Linked DNA regions of Homo sapiens: region 1 is linked to region 2. The links come from fine-mapping of genetic effects on gene expression. A gene starts in region 2. The other region holds a variant in brackets. All regions are shown on one strand. Distances are from middle to middle.

Region 1 (5,378 bases), 42 kb after region 2:
GCTTATTTGCGCTTGAAACATCAAGAAAGCTCTACCGACAGACATGTTTCATTCACTTATGATGAACCAACTGCCCATCTTTACTGAATCTTCTTGACTGTATTTATTAAAGTTGCAATTTGGAAATATCATTGGCCTAAAGTACAATGATTATATCCACATGTAATCACTCCACTTTAATAAGGTCAGAGAATATTAAAAATTGCAAACCGTAAAAATGACTGGCTTTGAACATATCTCTGTGGCCATTCAATAAACTTGTTCACCATCTAGCTGGTGAAACAATTGGGATTTGATCATCAGATTTCTTCTTTTCTAGTTATGATCAGCAAGGAATATTTCTGTTAGTTGGAACAGCAGAAGGAAAAGTCTTTATTATCAATGCCAACTCCTCAAGCTCATTTCAGATTATTGGATTCACAGGTACAACATAGAATGCTGATTAATTTAAAATATTGATTATTTCAAAGAATTTAAGGTTATGAAAATGGACTTTTCATATTGAATATTGAAACAATTATTTGTGGCATATTTTCTGAAAGAGAAACCTTTAAATAACTAAAGTTACTTAGGAGAATTCTCACATTATATTTTGATGTATTTGGAATATTAGAGTTATCTGCTTGGTACATAGTTGGTGCTAAATAAATTTTCTTGAATCAATTATTAAATACATTAATGAAATGGCTGAACATTTCTAATATTAACATACAGAGAAGTTGGGTTGATTTCTCTTGAAAATATTTTTTAATATTTTATCTCTAATGAAGAATTTTCTCTTTATTTTCTCTCTGGCTTTACATGCCAACTGTATATGTGTTTCCCCCCCCCCACACACACAATTTTTTTTAAAATTCTCCTTAAAAAAAATTTTTTTTTTGCTCCTCACACTTTGCCAAGTCCCACTCCTAAGTTTTTAAATTTGTTTATCATTGACTTATAAAAATTAGTGAGTGCCTACAAGGTGCAAAATGCCAAACCTAGGCCTTGTAGGGGGATGAAAATATTAAGGAGACAATTTAGTAGAGGAGGAAAATGCAGAATGGTGTGTAGGCTCAGATACTGTGTAGGCTCAGATACAGCAGCAATTCATTCTGCCAAGTGTGAGGAGAGGAGTGGAGGTGAAGGTGGGCACTGGTCAGGGGGTGCGGAGGATTGGAGGAGTTTTCCAAGGGCTTAAAGTAGTGGGTTTGAAGGATTTTCATAGGTGTGGGATAGGACATATTAGTATTCCTGCTCAAAATAATAACCCAAACAAAGGTACTTGGAATGGTAAAAAAGTCTGGTATAACAGGTAAATGGAAGAGTTTACTAGAAGATGACTATGGCAATGAAGTCTGAAAGAGGAAGGACCTTGAATATCATTCCAAAGAGTCTGGAATTGTTCTGTGGTTAATGAGCCATCATCAGTGGTTTCAAGATGGAGCTGGCATGATTTGACTTCGTTTTTAGAGACTGACTCTGATACCAGTGTGAAGGATGGAGTAGAAAGGCAAAAGAATGAAATTAAAAAGATGAGATTGGAAGCTATAATACTAGCCAAGGCAAGAGATGATCATAGTCATAATCATAGCAACAGCCAACACTTATTGAGGAATGCCTGACTATGTGGTAGCCAGTATTCTAAGCCCTCAGCATGTCTCCACCCATTGAATTCTTAGACAACTTTCATGAAATTGATACTACTATTATCTCTCCACATGAGGCAATTGAGGCGAAGCGAGGCTAAGTACTTGTTCAAGGCCATGCATCTAGTTAGTGGCAGAGCCCAGTTAAGGAAGTCCAGTTTCAGGGCGTGTGCTCTTATCCACAATGCACAAACTCATGCTGCAGTTACAGAAAGAGAAAAGAGGGCACAACCACGAGTGATGGAATTGGTAGGACTTGGTATTTGATGCGAAAGGAAGGGATAAGTGATGACTCCAAAATTTCTAGCCTGAATGGTGGAAGTTTGCAATGCCATTAGTTGAAAGTTCTAGAGGTTGAGGAATAGGTTGAGCTGATGAGTTCCATAGGTTTAAAGCCAATAAACTCTTCATTTGGGCATATTTAGCTTAAGTTTGGAAATCGGGATATGTAGTTCAAGGCTTAATGATAGAATTCTGATCTTGAAATCATGGTAGCTGATGAGATGGCTCAACAGAGTGGAAGTAAACCTGGATGCTTAATAAGGCAAAAGAGGTAACTAAATATGCAAATTAGATGGCACTGAGTGTGGTACAGCCTGTGGCTGACCTCAGAGTGGATGTATATCCTGCCTAAATATTCCATTTCATTTATTTTATTTTATTTTCCAGAGTCTTGCTCTGTCACCCAGGCTGGAGTGCAGTGGTGCAATCATAGCTCACTATAGCCTTGAATTCCTAGGCTCAGGCAATACTGCTGCTTCAGCCTCCTGAGTAGCTGGGACTACAGGTTTATGCCCCAAAGCCTGGCTTGTTCTCTGTTTTGTTTTTGTTTCCTTTTTTTTTTTTTTTTTTTTTTTTGAGATGGAGTCTCGCTCTGTCGCCCAGGCTGGAGTGCAGTGGCGTGATCTTGGCTCACTGCAAGCTCTGCCTCCTGAGTAGCTGGGCCTACAGGCGCCCGCCACCGCGCCAGGCTAATTTTTTGTATTTGTTAGTAGAAACGGGGTTTCACCATGTTAGCCAGGATGGTCTCGATCTCCTGACCTCATGATCCGCCCGCCTTGG[C/A]CTCCCAAAGTGCTGGGATTACAGGCGTGAGCCACCACGCCTGGCCTTTTTTTGTTTGTTTGTTTGTTTGTTTTGTTTTGTTTTGTTTTTTAGTAGAGAAAATGTCTCTCTATGTTGCTCAGGCTGGTCTTGATCTCCTGGAGTCAAGCAATCCTCCCACCTCAGCCTCCCAAAGTATTGGGATTACAGACATGAGCCACTGTTCCCTGCCCCATTTTTAATGTATCTGTTTGGCCAGAGGGTGGGATGGAAGAAGCTGGGAATAGAACCCTGGTCCACATTTTATATTGAAGCTGTGGACAGAGGAAGATGAGGCAGTGAAGAAAACTGAGGCTGGGCCAGAGTAATAAGAGAACTGGGAGTCATTCTCTCCAGAAACAGCCTAAAGAAGGAAGGCAGATGAAAGTACAGGCTGACACAGAAGTGTGGGTAGGGAGAGGGCTGAGATAGGCTCTCATATATTTGCCAGTCAGCAGGTGATCCCTGAGAGAGCTACTTCTTTGGAATGAAGAAGGTTAGGGAGGGAATAGAGGTAAGAAAATTAAGTCAGAAAGTGCCAAAACTATTTTAGGAAGTTTGCAGTGGAGAAAAGAGAGTCAGATGTTAACTGTTGTGGGACAGCAGAGTTGGAGGAAGGTTCTTATTTGAAGACAGGGGAGTCATGAGGGCTGAATAAAAGGAACCATAAGGGACACAAGAAGCTAAAAAGAGGTGATTGATAATGTATGGTCTAATAGGAGATTGGAGGAATGGGCTCAAAAATCACAGACAGGGAGGGGTTACATTTTGTTCCTACATCAATGTCAGGAAATGAATGGAGAAAATGGAAACAGACAAGGGGAAAGTGTGAGTCTCAGGATAAGAAAGTTGAGATTGAGTTTATGTAGATGTCCTTGGTCTTCCTTGTTAAGGAAGAGGGAAGGTCATCTGCTGACCGCCTGGGGAAGGGCCTGAGAAAGTGGGCACCTGCAGCACAGTCCCATGAAGAATGGGAGAGTGAATCTGGAACAAATCCAAGGTGGGCTCCAGGCCTGGCACACCTTGTAGAGGTTAGATCAGCTGGCTTTCTAGTGGAGCAAGCTCATAAAGTCACGTTTCCACCACACCCACAGTCCTTGACCACAGATGCAAAGAAGGCCGATGCCTAAGTTTACCCAATCTTAGGATTAGGTAACCTGGCTGGAGTGGACTTGTGGGGACCAGCTCATGCAGATGCTGGTTTGGAGGGATAGGGGGTGGAGATGGTGCACTCTGGGGCCACCCTGGCTGGGAAGGAAACCCAGACAGACTGGGCTGGTTTAAATCTGCCAGTCTAGACATCTAATCAGGAGAATCCCTCATCCATTCATCAAAAATGTCCCTGTAACTTATGTTTAAAGGTCACTTTAAATGTCCAGCAAATAATTTGATTCTAAAGATATAGTGAAGGCAAGTCCATGGATGATATCTTAATTGGAAAGGTAAAAGATCATTTAAACTTATCAATGACCACTTGTGGTGTTGATCTCTGTTTGCTTTCAGAGGTGGCCAAAGACATTTTACAGATATCCACAGTGTCTCTTTTAGAAACAGACATAGTGGAAGTGATGGTGCTTTCCTCGCTTCCAGAAGCAGGGAGAAGCAGGTTGGAGATGTTCACACTGCCTACATTACTGCCACAAGGTAAGGAAAACATAAGCAGCCAGTTCTGCTCCTGAGCCCAGATACATTGTTGTTATTGTTTTTTGGGTTTGTTTTGTTTTTATCTTGGCATGTGAAGAGGTAAAATGGCCACCTTTTGTCTATCTTTACAAAGTAAAACCAACATGCTAAACAGTTTGAAGTGTGGACTTTTCCTCTGGGCTTCCTGACTCATGAGTCTGCTTTATTACCATAGGAAAAGAGATAGGATCAACGGACACATCAAATTGATTTGTTATTTTTGTGATGTCTCTTGTTTTGTAGCTTTGAATAGACAAGGTTAAATTCAGATAGATTACAGTGTAGTTCCCTTCACTGACAAAATTATAAAGACAGTTTTCTGGATAAAAAGGTATGAGAAAATAGATACTCTTTCCTTGTTTTAATGACAAATATATCAGGTTAGCAGTTTTGCAAATATATAATTATAGAGCAGAAGAGAGCCGACAACCTCCAAGTACTTTTATGTTTTTATAAGAATCTCTATACTACCATGGGTTTCTTTTAATATGTCTCTAAGTTAATTGATTAAAAATTAATCAAGGCATTACAGAAATATTTTACCCACTATCAGTCATTTAATACTCAAGTATTTCTAGGGAGACAAGTGTTTTTAAATCATTTTTATCACCTACTAGCTTCCGCAATATTAGTTGAGCATTTAAATTTTATTTTGCTTTTCATAATTGTTCATAATTTTAAAAAAACAAAATTAATTTATGGTACAAGTGATTTCTCTTCTTTTTCCAAATCTAATAGTTTCCACAACCTTTGCTGATGAAAGAGGAAGGCTGAAAGATGAAATCATTCATAAGTACCTGTATGAGTTGGAGCACGCTCTGTCCTCTGCAGTCTTGGGCTTTCAAAGTAACCAAATATATGGCTTCTGTAGTCAAGTGCCATACATCTGTAGCTACCTTCTTCCTGAAGAAGTATGTCAACACTTAAGTGTGCTCTCATTTATCTTAGCAATCAAGATTGATACATTATACTGATTAGATGTGATCC
Region 2 (5,378 bases):
AGACATATTTACCCAATTTTAATGTTAACCATAAGGTAAGAGTCTTATAAACCTCGTATAACCCTTTACAATTGTGTGTGTGTGTGTGTGTGTGTGAAAGAGCAGATCAACTCTAAGAAAAACCTGTTGTGCTTTTATTCCAATGTTTAATTTATCGAAAAACTGAATAATACCCCTGTAACTTTAGCCAGTATGTTCACATACAGAATCTCTTACAATTAATTTTTATAAACCTTCCACAACTTATTTAAACCTTTAGTTTTTTTTTTTACTTAAAGCAATCCTTTAACACTTAAATGTAGGCAGAGAAAAATCCACATTCCCATTACTTCTTATAATCTTTCACCAAAAACACATTTTACTTTCTTTACACACCTTGCATGTAAAACTGTTTCTTTAGTAGTTTTAATTACATGTTATAATGTTAACTTTTTGCAACTTTTATTTTTGGTGAAAACCTTGGTAAGTAAGAGATTTTAATTGTGTACTAGGTGTGGAGCCTAGCCTAGGACACAACAGGCAGAAGTGCAGATAACAGCTGACTCTCTAGCATAGCTAGAGGGCATAGCTAACTCCACATGTCCACAGGGCTCACCCTTACTTAAGCAGGCAAGTTGTACAGTAAGAGTCATAGGGCATTGTATGAAGCATTTAGGAGGCCTAACAATCCGTGAATTGTACAACATTTCTTGCATAAAATCACTTTCATAAATCCTTTCACAACTTACACAGACCATCTGAGACCATGTGGATATCTAGCCCAACTCCCTGGATCCCACCAGTCTCTAAGTTCCAAGAAGGAAGAAACTTTATTTGTTTTTCTATTTTTTCCAAGTGACTAGCACATGCATGAATGCATGCGGGATGCTCTGTAAATATTTGTGAAAGAAATGGAGAGAAGAAAGCAAGACAGGAAGGAAAGACCTAAAGAAAGGAAGGGAAGGGTAGAGAAGGGAAGACGACTGAAGGGAAAGGAAGAAGGGTAAGGGAGGGAGTCTAAGGGAAGGTATGGGAGAGAAGAAGGAATGACAAGCTGCCGACCATTCAATCAGGTTACTTCCAGAGCTGTCTGCTTCCCTGAGGAAGCAAGAGGGTACATTTCAAAGTGTTATATGGTACTTAAGGGCTTGGAGCTCTAAATTAGCTAGACCTGCGTTTAAGTCCCACTCAGGGCTGGGCAAGGTGGCTCACGCCTGTAATCGCAGCACTCTGGGAGGCCAAGGCGGGCGAATCACTTGAGGTCAAGAATTTGAAACCAGCCTGGTCATCATGGTGAAAACCCGTCTCTACTAAAAATACAAAAAATTAGCTGGGCATGGTAGCACGTGCCTGTAATCTCAGCTACTTGGGAGGCTGAGGCAGGAGAATCGCTTGAACCCAGGAGATGGAGGTTGCAGTGAGCCAAGATCAAGCCACTGCCCTCCAGCCTGGGCAACGGAGTGAGACCCTATCTCAAAAATAAATAAATAAATAATATAAATAAATAAAGTCCCACTCAACTTTGTAGCCATGGACAAATTATGTGCTTCTCTTTTCCTCACGTTACTTATCTGTAAAATGGGGCTGATGGGAGATGTGAAGACGTTGCAACAATGTTTGGCACAGTCAGCACTCTAAATGAAAGTCTGTTTAGAAATTTATTGATTTTTAAAAATAATTATTTATTTAGAGACAGGTCTCGCTCTGTCGCCCAGGCTGGAGTGCTGTGGCGTCATCCCAGCTCACCGCAGCCTTGAACTCCTGGGCTCAAGCGATCCTCCCACTTCAGTCTCCCAAGTAGCTGGGACTACAGGCGTGCACCACCATGCCCGGCTGCTTTTTAAATTTTTTTGTAGAGATGCGGCACGGGCGCGGCAGGTTTCGCTATGTCTTCCAGGCTGGTCTTCAACTCCTAGCCTCAAGCGATCCTCCCGCTCTGACCTTCGAAAGCGCGGAGATTGTAGGCATGAGTCTTACTTGCAATTATTGGCCCGGACCTGGGGAAATTTGTTAAAATGCAGATTCTGATTGAGTAGATCTGGTGTGGGAGCCAAGTTTCTGCATTTATAACAAGCTTCCCAGGTAGCACCAATGTTGCTGGTAAACAGACCACACTTTGAACAGCAAGGGGCCCGCCCCTCGCTTGGCTTGCCGCTCACCCATTGGCCGAGAGCGGCAGACCTTCCACCAATCTGCTCGGCTCAGAAGGGAGCGGGCCAAAGCGCAGAGCCAATGGGCGCGGGGCTTACGGTCTCCGGGATACGGGTGTACACAGCAGCGGCGTCGCGGCCCGCAGCCCCGCGGCGGCGGAAAGGTAACCGACCCGCCCTGGGGTGCTGCGTGCGCTGCCTGCTCCCGCCTGAGGAAAACACTGCCCATGGCGCAAGGCCGGGAGCGCGACGAAGGCCCCCACTCCGCCGGCGGCGCGTCCTTGTCCGTGAGGTGCGGTGTTCACGGCCCCGCGACCGATCTGGGTCTCGCGGAACCTCCTGCCCCAAGTCCCCTCCTCCCTCCTCTCCCTCCGGTTCCTTAGGGCGGCTTTCCCCGCAGCTTCGACCTCTTCCCCTCTGCCCCCAGTGCCTTCCCTCAGCCTCCCTCCCCGTGTGACCTCCCCTGTCCGCTCCCCATCCCCTTGTTCCTTGACCCCGTCCCCAGTTGTCTTTCCCACTCCTTATTCTGCGACCCTGACCCTCCGTCTCTTACCCAGCAACGTCCCCTGCACCCTTCATCTCTTCCTTCTAGCTCAGGATTCCCGCTAGTGATCCGGGTCTTCTGATCACATCCCCCTCCCCCTCCACCTGGCGACAGCCCGGATCCCGTCCTTGCTACCTTTGGTGATTTTCCCCAAAGTTAGGTCCCTGAATCCTTTCCTTCTAACTCCTATCCACTAGCTTTGGATTTATTTGCATTTATAGTAGCCTTTGAAAAGCATCAAGCACTGCGCAGATATAGGTGGCATTTTTTCCCCTACATTCTAGAGTGTTCCTCCCAGCCCCCACCTCCACTCTATACAGCATCCCCTGCTAGTCCTGGACACTCTAATGTCTCGAGGTTTCTCACCAAACCAGTGTCCTTCACTTGCCTTTTCCACCATCTTCAAGCATACCTTTAATATTTAAATAAAAATAGAATCTCCTTCATCTCCTCTCCTTTCTAGCATACACCTAGCACGCACTCCTTACTTGAGAGTATGTTCTTTTTGTGTGCTAGCCTTTCATTCACGTCGACTTCATTCCTTTTATTTTCTACGTTTATCTGTATTTTTAAATCTAAAATATGGCCACATACTCTTCATCTGTGTAAATAAGCAATTTTCCTACTCTGCTAACAACCACAAAGCAGGCTGTCCTATGCAAAGTTGTTTTTTAAAGTTTATTTAAAAAAATCAAACTAATTATAAAAGAATGGCCCAGGATGCCACTGTGTTGAGATCAAGCTCTTTTCTCTGTTATTTTCACTTTTTGTCTTCCAAGTATAGAAGACCCCAGAAGTCCTTCTGAGACTTTCTCAGGTTTGGTCAGAGAGTTTCCTTTGCTGAAAAAGTTATCTGAAGAAGGCCTGGGAGACCTACGGAACTTTAGGTCTACATTTAAATTTCTATAATTCATTGACTCAAATGGATCTCACAGCCAGCATGTGTGTTCTTTTATCTTAGAAATTGGGGGCAGAAAGGACATGAAAATAGAAATGTTTCAAAGATTTTGATGACCCTTTGCTTTGTTAAAAAAAAAAAAGTATTTGAAATGTATTATATTGATGTTGACATATCTTTTCCCAAAGATGGGTGCAAGGATTCCCTAAGCAGAATGTTCATTTTGTCAACGACAACACCATTTGCTACCCTTGTGGGAATTATGTAATATTTATTAATATTGAAACCAAGAAAAAGACTGTACTGCAGTGTAGTAATGGAATTGTGGGCGTCATGGCAACTAACATCCCCTGTGAAGTTGTGGCTTTTTCTGACCGGAAGCTAAAACCTCTCATCTACGTATACAGCTTTCCAGGATTGACCAGAAGGACCAAATTGAAAGGTATTCTAGAGAACCCTTCCTCTGCCCATAATTGAAGGATTTTGTTTAAAGAGTTGACTAAATCTATTATAAGTGAAGATTTATTTTTTGAAAGGTTTTTTTTGTTTGTTTTTTGTGTTTGTTTTGAGATGGAGTTTTGCCCTGTTGCCTAGGCTGGAGTGCAGTGGTGCGATCTTGGCTCACTGCAATCTCTGCCTCCCAGGTTCAAGTGATTCTCCTGCCTCAGCCTCCTGAGTAGCTGGGATTACAGGTGCGCACCACCACGCCCAGCTAATTTTTGTATTTTTAGTAGAGATGGGGTTTCACCATGTTGGTCAGGCTGTTCTCCAACTCCTGACCTAGTGATCCGCCTGCCTCACCCTCCCAAAGTGCTGAGATTACAGGCATGAGCCACCACGCCTGGCCCCATTTTTTTTTTTAATATACATTTTTAAAGAAGGAATCAAGCTGATCACTGAGGATTTAAATTATGTTAGCTAGAGCCTTGCTGTTCAAAGTGTGGTCTGTTTACCAGCAACATTGGTGCTACCTGGGAAGCTTGTTATAAATGCAGAAACTTGGCTCCCACATCAGAGCTACTCAATCAGAATCTGCATTTTAACAAAATTCCCAGGTGATTCATATGCACATTAAACTTTGAGAAGCACTGGGCTAGAAGACTATTGCCTTTTTCAGAGCAATGACTTTTTTTTCTTTCCTAATATTTGTTGAAAATCCAGGTGAATTGATGTTTGTATAGCTTCTAAAGTCAAGTCTCTGAGCCTCAATTTCCTCATTCATGAAATAGGGATAAAGATGGTGTCTAATGTGAAGGCTGCGGTGATGATGATAGATGAAAATATATAATATGCTGTATGTGTATGTATGCCAAGTGCTCAATGTTGCCTACCATTTGAATTATTAGTGTTTATTTTATTTATTTTATTTTAACAGAGTCTGGCTCTATCACCCAGGCTGGAGTGCAGTGGCATGATCTTGGCTCACTGCAGCCTCCACCTCCTGGGTTCAAGTGATTCTCCTGCCTTGGCCTCCCAGGTAGCTGGGATTACAGGTGTGCGCCACCATGCTCGGCTTTTTTTTTTTTTTTTTTATGTTTTTGGCAGAGGATGGGGTTTTACCATGTTGGCCAGGCTGGTCTCGAACTCCTGGCCTCAAGTGATCCACCCACCTCCGCCTCCCAAAGTGCTGGGATTACAGGCGTGAGCCACTGTGCCCGGCCTAATGACTCTTTCTTAGATACAGCTGACCCACACTGAGCTGCTGCACGTCTGCTGGAGCCACCAGCTAATGATTCCTTCATTTAACACCCCATGGGCAGAAAGCTCATGCTTGAGGCTGGACTTAGCTCTGTAGTCTTAAGGGTCA

What was found.
Region 1: its variant is fine-mapped to the expression of CFAP43 in thyroid (GTEx, PIP 0.93).

What each region holds. Positions count from the first base shown.
Region 1 is chr10:104,187,244-104,192,621 of GRCh38, reverse strand. It overlaps CFAP43 (cilia and flagella associated protein 43), which reads left to right. Exons shown (of 38, transcript NM_025145.7): 12 at 320-423; 13 at 4,212-4,352; 14 at 5,130-5,302. Among named protein-coding and RNA genes, the nearest start is that of MIR609, 29 kb to the left of the region's middle. The variant C/A (reference allele first, on the strand shown) is at 2,691.
Region 2 is chr10:104,229,225-104,234,602 of GRCh38, reverse strand. CFAP43 (cilia and flagella associated protein 43) reads left to right here and starts at 2,239. Exons shown (of 38, transcript NM_025145.7): 1 at 2,239-2,421; 2 at 3,760-4,013. The coding sequence starts at 2,357. RefSeq lists an enhancer at 2,118-2,412.